Regions from separate parts of the Homo sapiens genome. Here region 2 is reported to be linked to region 1. The links are microRNA targets in miRTarBase. Many come from high-throughput screens and were not tested one by one. Region 1 holds a microRNA gene; the other region holds the end of a gene's coding sequence.
Evidence for each region. Region 1 holds the annotated microRNA hsa-miR-4794 (UCUGGCUAUCUCACGAGACUGU, at 1,661-1,682, opposite strand). A microRNA usually pairs through its seed, bases 2 to 8, with sites in the 3' UTR of a target mRNA and lowers its output. Matches are read on the target gene's strand: a 7mer-m8 pairs with bases 2 to 8, a 7mer-A1 pairs with bases 2 to 7 and ends in A, and an 8mer does both.

Region 2: miRTarBase lists SMIM14 as a target of hsa-miR-4794. Seed matches in the 3' UTR shown: 7mer-m8 at 1,878-1,884 and 7mer-m8 at 2,505-2,511.

The regions. Positions count from the first base shown.
Region 1 is chr1:64,577,133-64,581,536 of GRCh38, reverse strand. It overlaps MIR4794 (microRNA 4794), which reads right to left and starts at 1,690; the gene lies at 1,614-1,690. All of the region lies in intron 2 of CACHD1 (cache domain containing 1), which reads right to left. It overlaps LOC124904195 (a long non-coding RNA gene), which reads right to left. Exons shown (of 2, transcript XR_007066150.1): 2 at 1,693-4,404.
Region 2 is chr4:39,548,548-39,552,951 of GRCh38, reverse strand. SMIM14 (small integral membrane protein 14) reads left to right here. Exons shown (of 5, transcript NM_174921.3): 5 at 794-4,404. The coding sequence ends at 826. The region is part of intron 2 of UGDH-AS1 (UGDH antisense RNA 1); the gene reads right to left. Among named protein-coding and RNA genes, the nearest start is that of UGDH-AS1, 23 kb to the right of the region's middle.

The sequences.
Region 1 (4,404 bases):
CTGCTGTGAACAGAACACTTCATCATGATTTACTTTCATGCAGGAATAATAAAAGCAAATTGGTAAGCATACTGCTTTTTCCTCCATTGTTCCCATCAAATACCACAGCTTCATCAAAGATCTCCAAGGAAAACTGTGTTGTTTTTTCTTCCCTTTAAACAAAATGTTACCCAAAGGAAATGACTGATAGAATTATAGCTAATTGGTTTTGTAGTGCTATTCATTATCATCACACTGGAGGAAAACTAATCATCTCCTTTGGGTCATGCGTCTCACACAATCCAATAGCTTCCAGGCTGAGAACATGGAGTCAAATCAAAATATCTTCATTTGTTATTTTCAAGCCAATTTTAAATCTTGATTTTGTTCCAGGGATATTCTATAGCTTTCAGGGTCTCAATTAAATAACTGAGGTTCTCAGCCTTGCTAGAAATTATATAAACTATAAAGTTTAGAAAAACTTCCAGACATAACAAAGGGATATGAGTATAATGTTTAATTGGATAATGGGTTGTCCAAATTCATTTTATCATTTTCAAAGGAGGAGTTGTGGGTCTTGGAAATGTACAAAATGACTCACAATACTCCCTGACCTAGACTTCTTACTATTAAAATAAAGTAGGTTTTCCTCATTGAGGTCATTGAATTAAAACATATAAACCCAGTTTAATTTAGACAACTGTTGGTTTTGCCACCCTCAGGGGACATTTGGAGAAAATTTTGATTGTCACAACTTGGTGGAGAATGCTGCAAAGTAGATAGATAGAGGCCAGGGATTCTCCTAAACATCCTACAATGCACAGGACAGCACCCCAAAACCAAGAATTATCTGGTTCAAATGCCACTAATGGCCCAGATGAGAAACCTTGAAACCTCGATTGATTGCTTTTTTAACAGGTGTTGGAAAATCACTTTTTAAGCAAAAAATTCACATTTTATTAAGGATATTAATATAACCCTTTCAGGGGTCCTCTAAAAATCTTTAGCAGTATCCTCTGATTGCAGTCAAATAATTATTAACCAGATGTTTTATTTAAGGGCTATTCTTGGGTATGATTCTGACCAATTTATTTTTTCTTTTCCAATTTTTATTTTAGGTTCGGGGGTACATGAGCACATTTGTTACATGGATAAATTGCACGTTACTAGGGTTTGCTGTACAAATGATTTTGTCACCCAGAAAAACTTTGATTGAGAGAAAAATCAGTAAATTATCCCAATTTGTAATTCAGTCAATAGGTTCCAAACTGTTCTTCTATTTGAATTCTCCACCCATCCAAAATGATAACTTATCAGGGAAAAAAAATCCTGTACATTTCAACAACTGCAATTTTTTTCATTCTTTGTTTTTCCTTCCCCAAAGCAATATTAAACAGGCCATCACACGTGGCCTAGATATGGAGAGAGGACTATTCACTCATTATCAAACGTGTTAACGTGGTTTTTAAACAGCAGCTTGCAACTAATCTAACAACCCTCTTTTCCTAGACTTTCACATTCAGTGGGCAGTAGAGGGTGTCAGAGCAATAGGCCCAGCTTGAAAACCTTATATTCTCATAATGCCCTGCATAAGCCATCTCATAACACACATTAAATTTGATGCTGTTTTTTTTTTTTAACATCTGGCTATCTCATGAGACTACAAGCACTGTTAGGACATACAGTCTCGTGAGATAGCCAGATGTTAAAAGATAACATACGATATATGTTTTTGTTCACCACTGTATCTTCAGGCTCTAGCACACTGCCTGGCATTATAGACATAGAAAAAATATTTAATGAAGTGATAAAGATTTTAAAAATTCATTCCTGAGAGTCATCAACCTTATCTTCTGTTCTAATAATCAACTCTTTTAAAACATACTTATTTTTAAAATATACAACAATATGTATTTCTGGAAGCTCCATCAAGAAGCAAGTTCTACCTTTTCTTTGTAGGTCCTGACTTCTGATAAAGTAAATATCATTAATTTCCCACATAGGAGTATTAAGTGCATAGTCCTTTATTGCCCTTGGGAATAAATGTTTTGTAACATAATGAACATAAGATGTAATTAAAAGAACTAAATTTTGAAATATCTTCACAAATTCACTTTAAAATAAAAACAAAATTTGTAGTCATATGTCCTTCTCTCTCACACACACACTCTTAATTCCACTTGAGAAATACCCAAGGGTTTCTTCTACACATTTGGAGGATTCTAACTTTGAAGAGTCAGATCTAGCTAAACTCAAGATATTCCAATCTGGTCCACTGCCTCTTTCTACATAGGCCATGAGCTAAGAATGATTCTTACACTTTTAAATGTTTTTTAAAGGAGAATATTTTTAATATTTAGTAGTTACATGAAATTCTAATTTTACTGTTAATATTTATTGGAACATGATCATTTGTTTACATATTGTTTACGGCTGCTTTCATTTTACAATGGCAGATTAAGTAGCTGCAAGAGTCTGTATGGCCTGCTTTGCTATAGGTAGAAGCCAGCGGCCCTAATTTATCCCCAGATGGAAACATAATCCCAGTGTGGTGCCATAATCCTAGTGTAGTGGTTTTATAGAAATTTCCTACAAATTCTTTAACAGGTCTACCCTTTGGCAGGTGGGGTCTACATGTCCCCCTGTCCCCACTGCTTAAATCTGGGTAGGCTTATGATGGCTTCTACTAGTGGAGTACAGAGAAAGTGATACTACGTGACTCCTAAAGCTAGGTCATAAAAGGACATGCCTGTCTCTTGGAACGCTTACTCTTGGTAGCTGTCAGCTACGCAGCTGTAAGAAGTCCAAGACACATGGAGAGGCCACAGTCAGTGCTTAGTTGGCAGCTCCCCAGCTTAGCATGTCTTCCAAGTCATCCCAGCCCAAGTTGTGGCATGAACCAAGAAACTTCCAGATAATTTCAGCCCCCAGAGTAGCCCCTTGATGAAGCCATGGACATCATGAAGCAGAGATAAGCCATCCTTGCTGTGCCTGGTCAAAATCCTGACCCACAGAATTTGTAAGCATGTTTGTTTATGCCACTAAGTTTTGGGTGGTTTGTTATGCAACAACAGAAAACTGGAAAATGCAGGATCAGCTGAATTCCATCCTAGGATATACATATTGAAGCAGGTGAAACAAAGCTCCTAAATGTAGGCACTGCATCTAAATCATCAAAATTATCAAGATTGTACCCTGTGAGTTGTAAATCTGTTGCAAAGAGATTTCAGGGTTCTTCAGAAAATTTTAATAGCTACCAGGACCTTACAGTGTGGGTATTCTCATTTTATATCAATGAGTTAAGTGATGAGCCCAAAGCCACAAAGTAAGTGGAAGAGCCATTCACTTATACAAATTCAAAGTCTGTGTGCTCATGCACTCGCTGCGGTGCCTCAGACAAACCAAACCTAAAAGAAGCTGCAATGGTGGCTTGAAATATTAAAATATGACAAATCACACAGGCTGAGAATTTCTGTTAACATAATCAAACAAGGCAAAGAGCAGAATGTTAAAAGGTCCTCAACTCTGGGCTGGCTGTGGAACTGAATCTTCCTTGGGATTGCAGGGTGACTGGTTGATGGGAGAGCAGCCCTGGCAGAGGTGTGTTTTACTGGGGGATCGGGGTAGAATGTCTGCCTTTGCCTTCCTGGTTAGGGTGGGCCTTCAGCTGCATTCTTCATCAATAGAGACAGAAAGTACCAAGAATACAGAGTCCAAACACCTATGGCACTTCACAAAAGGTGTCAAATCCATGCTCTGTCTACTTGGATTCACAGCTGTCAGTCAGAAATTCCCCAGTCTTTCATGTAGCAACATTCTATCTTGCCTTACTAAGAAAAATGCCAACATCTGCTGAGTGCCAACTATGTACAAGTCACAATTTTAGGCCTCTCACATGCATATACCAACTTAATCCTTTAAAGGACCCTATTAGGTGCACACTTCCATTTTCCAGAAGTAGACACTAAGGGGTAATTTGCTCAAGGTTACAAAGCTAGTAAGTGGTAGGGCTGGGATTCAAACCCATATTCTGACTTCAGAGCCCAAACCTTCAACCTTTACTCAACATTGCTTCTCTTTGTAATATGGAGATCAACCCTCTCCCCACATTTCTTTTCAAATCAATTTTAACAAATGTTGTGAAATGCTTGGCAGGATACCATAAGCTATGCACAGTCTCATTACTTTATAATAAGAATTAGATTTTTAAAAATTAATATGATTTCTAATAATATTCTTCAAAATTCCTATGAAAATCAAGTACTTTGAAGAAGTTTAGAATTATTAAATTTTACCACAAATATAAAAAAGGGGCCAGGAGCAGGGGCTCACACCTGTAATCCCAACACTTTGGGAGGCTGAGGCAGGTGGATCACTTGAGCCCAAGAGTTCAAGACCAGTCTGGGCAACATAGCGGGACACTGT
Region 2 (4,404 bases), not on the chromosome of region 1:
TGTGTTGAGACTAATTCCAAGGAGAAATATTGATCACCCCCAACTCGGGCGTCATGTATCATTTCAGGGTAAATAAATAAAATCTTGAGAATCTTAAAAACTCTGATCTTTCCTTTACAGTTCACTTGCTTTCTATTGCAAGTTAACAAAAGTCAATTCCAAGTGGTTTAAAACAAGTGGCTTCATTGATTTACACGTCAAAAAAATTCAGAGGTAGGGTCAGTGTTAAGAAAGTTTCAACAGTGTCATCAAAGACCTAGTTTCTTTCCTCATACTAACAACTTCATTCCAAGATGGGCTCCCCTTAGGGTTATAGGATGACTACCAGAAGCAACTGCAGCCACATGCATCCTCGTAGACATTCAGTATTGAGAAACAAAAGTCCCTAGCTTCATTTTAAATATACAGTACTTTGCTTAGCCAATCGACTTTAGCAAGAGGGATGAAGATATTTTCATAGGTTTGAAGATCACTCCTGGGGTTGGCAGGAGTGATAACATCACTGTTGTACAAATTCCCTCTCTCTTCCATTCTACAGGGAAAAATGAGACAAATGGTGGAAAATCACAGTGTTATTTAATCTAGTGTTCCCTCATGTAAAAACATATGAAAAGTCCAAATAAGCATATATTTGGGATGGGATGGTTGGGGGCATTGCTGCTCAGTTGTTTCTCTATGTGTTAGATTGGTTGCACTGGGATTTAATAAGTCAATTTTTAAAAAAGTAATAAATTTTAAATTTTTTTGAATTTTTAAAAAGTCAATTAAATAATTTATTTCTTTCTAATGCCAGGGACAAGATCCACCAGCTCCTCCTGTGGACTAACTTTGTGATATGGGAAGTGAAAATAGTTAACACCTTGCACGACCAAACGAACGAAGATGACCAGAGTACTCTTAACCCCATTAGAACTGTTTTTCCTTTTGTATCTGCAATATGGGATGGTATTGTTTTCATGAGCTTCTAGAAATTTCACTTGCAAGTTTATTTTTGCTTCCTGTGTTACTGCCATTCCTATTTACAGTATATTTGAGTGAATGATTATATTTTTAAAAAGTTACATGGGGCTTTTTTGGTTGTCCTAAACTTACAAACATTCCACTCATTCTGTTTGTAACTGTGATTATAATTTTTGTGATAATTTCTGGCCTGATTGAAGGAAATTTGAGAGGTCTGCATTTATATATTTTAAATAGATTTGATAGGTTTTTAAATTGCTTTTTTTCATAAGGTATTTATAAAGTTATTTGGGGTTGTCTGGGATTGTGTGAAAGAAAATTAGAACCACGCTGTATTTACATTTACCTTGGTAGTTTATTTGTGGATGGCAGTTTTCTGTAGTTTTGGGGACTGTGGTAGCTCTTGGATTGTTTTGCAAATTACAGCTGAAATCTGTGTCATGGATTAAACTGGCTTATGTGGCTAGAATAGGAAGAGAGAAAAAATGAAATGGTTGTTTACTAATTTTATACTCCCATTAAAAATCTCTAATGTTAAGAAAACCTTAAATAAACATGATTGATCAATATGGCAGATGATTTACAGTCCATTATATGACATTTGTAAGCCACTCAACACTAGCCTTACAAGGTTCATGAAAGGAGGAAAACATTAATTCTTTCTGCCTTTGCTGATATAATCCACATAGTAATAATTTAAGCTATAATTTATTTTTAAAATGAGTGCCTCTTGGGAAGCTTCTTTTCTGTTCTAACAGTTCCCTGTTAAAATGAAAATCTTAGGCCAGTGCAGTGGCTCACACCTGTAATCCCAGCACTTTGGGAGGCTGAGGTGGGTGGATCACTTGAGGTCAGGAGTTCGAGACCAGCCTGGCCAACATGGTGAAACCCTGTCTCTACTAAAAATACAGAAAAATTAGCCAGGGTTGGTGCATGTGCCTGTAATCCCAGCTACTCAGGAGGCCAAAGCAGGAGAATTGCTTGAACCCGGGAGGTGGAGGTTGCAGTGAACCAAGATCGCACCACTGCATTCCAGCCTAAGCAATAGAGCGAGACTCCCTCTCAAAAAAAAAAAAAGAAGAAAATCTTAAAGCTGTATTAGGGCCTGTTAGGTTACTGATATTTGAATGCCTATTTACTTATTTACTACATTGAGTCTTTTGTTATCCTCTGACCTATAAAATATTTTAATAAATTACTGGTTTACTTCAAGGGAAAAGAAGGAAAATGAGAAACATACATCTTTTTTTCACTCCTTATCTCATTCCTGTTTGGTGATGGGATGGATTGGGGTAGGAAGGAATGTTAATATGAGAGAAATTTTAAAATGTATAAAAAAGTAAAAGGTTGTATTGTTTTGCTCAGTTTGAAATAAAGTGAATACCAATAGCACTTAAAAATGTCTGCATGGGCTGGGCACGGTGGCTCACGCCTGTAATCCCAGCACTTTGGGAGGCCGAGGCAGGCGAATCACCTGAGGTCAGGAGTTCGAGACCAGCCTGACCAACATGGTGAAACCTTATCTCTACTAAAAATGCAAAAATTAGCCAGGCATGGTGGTGTGTGCCTATAATCCCAGCTACTGGGGAAGCTGAGGCAGGAAATTGCTTGAACCTGGGAGACGGAGGTTGCAGTAAGCTGAGATCGTGCCACTGCACTCCAATCAGGGCGACAGAGCGAGACTCTGTCTCAAAATAAATAAATAAATAAAAATGTCTGCATGACCCATATGGTTATGAAGTTTTTTTCCTAGCAAATGATTGCAGATTATTTATGGGGGCTAGAAGATATTTTGCTATCAATGTAAGGATTTTTTTCCCCTTAGGTCAGTCTATTCACTGTTTAGATCTGGTAAATTACTTGTATGAATTGAATAAATTCTCTGTATCATTGTACTGTTTAATAGTCTCTGATACAATTGTGATACTCATAAGGTATTTTCCCCCCTTTATTATGATTACATTCTAGATCATAAACATTGTAAGGGCATCTTTTCATTATATAATCCAATATTGATTGTTTGAATTCCTCCTTGTACATCCTGGCTTTGTGCTCAATTTCTTGAAATAATATAACCAACTCTAAATTACTTGTGTTAATAGATCGGTAACATGACACAGGTAAGTTAAATCCTGGATAAATGAGCCCCACAGAATAAAGGTTTTTCCTCTTGCTGTGGCCTACTGGAAGCCTTCCTAACTCTATAGCTGGTAAAGTAGAGCAGAAAGGGCCAGAATGGCTTAAGATGGAGCTAAATCCCTATAGCATTCCATTTTCTGCTCTTGCCTCTTGAACTTAGAAGGCTTGCCCATATATCCTAACAATCTGTTCTCTGAGCTGTTAGGCCAATCCCTGGCAAGAGATATTGATGTAGTCACTGAATCTATGGCTCACAAATAATTGAAAATTGGCTTTGGGAGCTGGGCGCAGTGACTCATGCCTGTAATCCCAGCACTTTGGGAGGCTGGGGCAGGTGGATCACTTGAGGTCAGGAGGTTGAGACCAGCCTGGCCAAGACGGTGAAACCCCGTGCCTACAAAAAATTAGCCGGGTTTGGTGACACGGCCTGTAGTCTTAGCTACTCGGGAGGCTGAGGCAGGAGAATCGCTTGAGCCTGGGAGACAGGTTGCAGTAAGCCAAGATCACGCCACTGCACTCCAGCTTGAGTGACAGAGTGAGACCCTGTCTCAAAAAAAAAAGGCTTTAGAAGGCTTTATTGGATGAAATGGCTGAAACTTGGATACAGAATGTCTAGTATTAGACACCTAAAAATCTGGATTCTTTTTGGTTGTTGTTTTGAGATGGAGTTTTGCTCTTTCGCCCAAGCTGGAGTGAAGTGGCGCGACCTTGGCTCACTGCAACATCCACCCCCAGGTTCGAGCGATTCTCCTTCCTCAGCCTCCTGAGTAGCTGGGATTATAAGTGCCCACCACCACGCCCAGCTAATTTTTGTATCTTTAGTAGAGATGGGGTTTCGCCATGTAGGCCAGGCTGGTCTCAAACTCCTGACCTCAGGTGATCCACCCACTATGGCCTCCCAAAGTGCTAGGATTACAGATGTGAGCCACCGTGCCTGGCCAGAAAATCTGGATTCTTATTCCTAGTTCTTCATTTCTGTCACATGCACTTAGTTGACATTACATCTACATATATTAGCTTTTTCCTACATGAGCCATCTATTTACTTAGTAACCAGTGTTCTTAATGAAGTATTTAGTCTTGGGTTTCTTGTAAAATTTCTCTGCATTCCTTAGACAGTGTACTATACATGAAATATTCTTGTTGACCTAGTAATTTATATTATTCCATTTAATTCTTAAACCTATGGCCTTTTTATTGAGCACACTCTTAAATCATTATTTGGCTTGTAAACATTCATCTGAAGTGTGGCTACAATCCTCTTTAAATAATCTAGGAAAAAAGAAAGATAAAGCTTACATTTTCA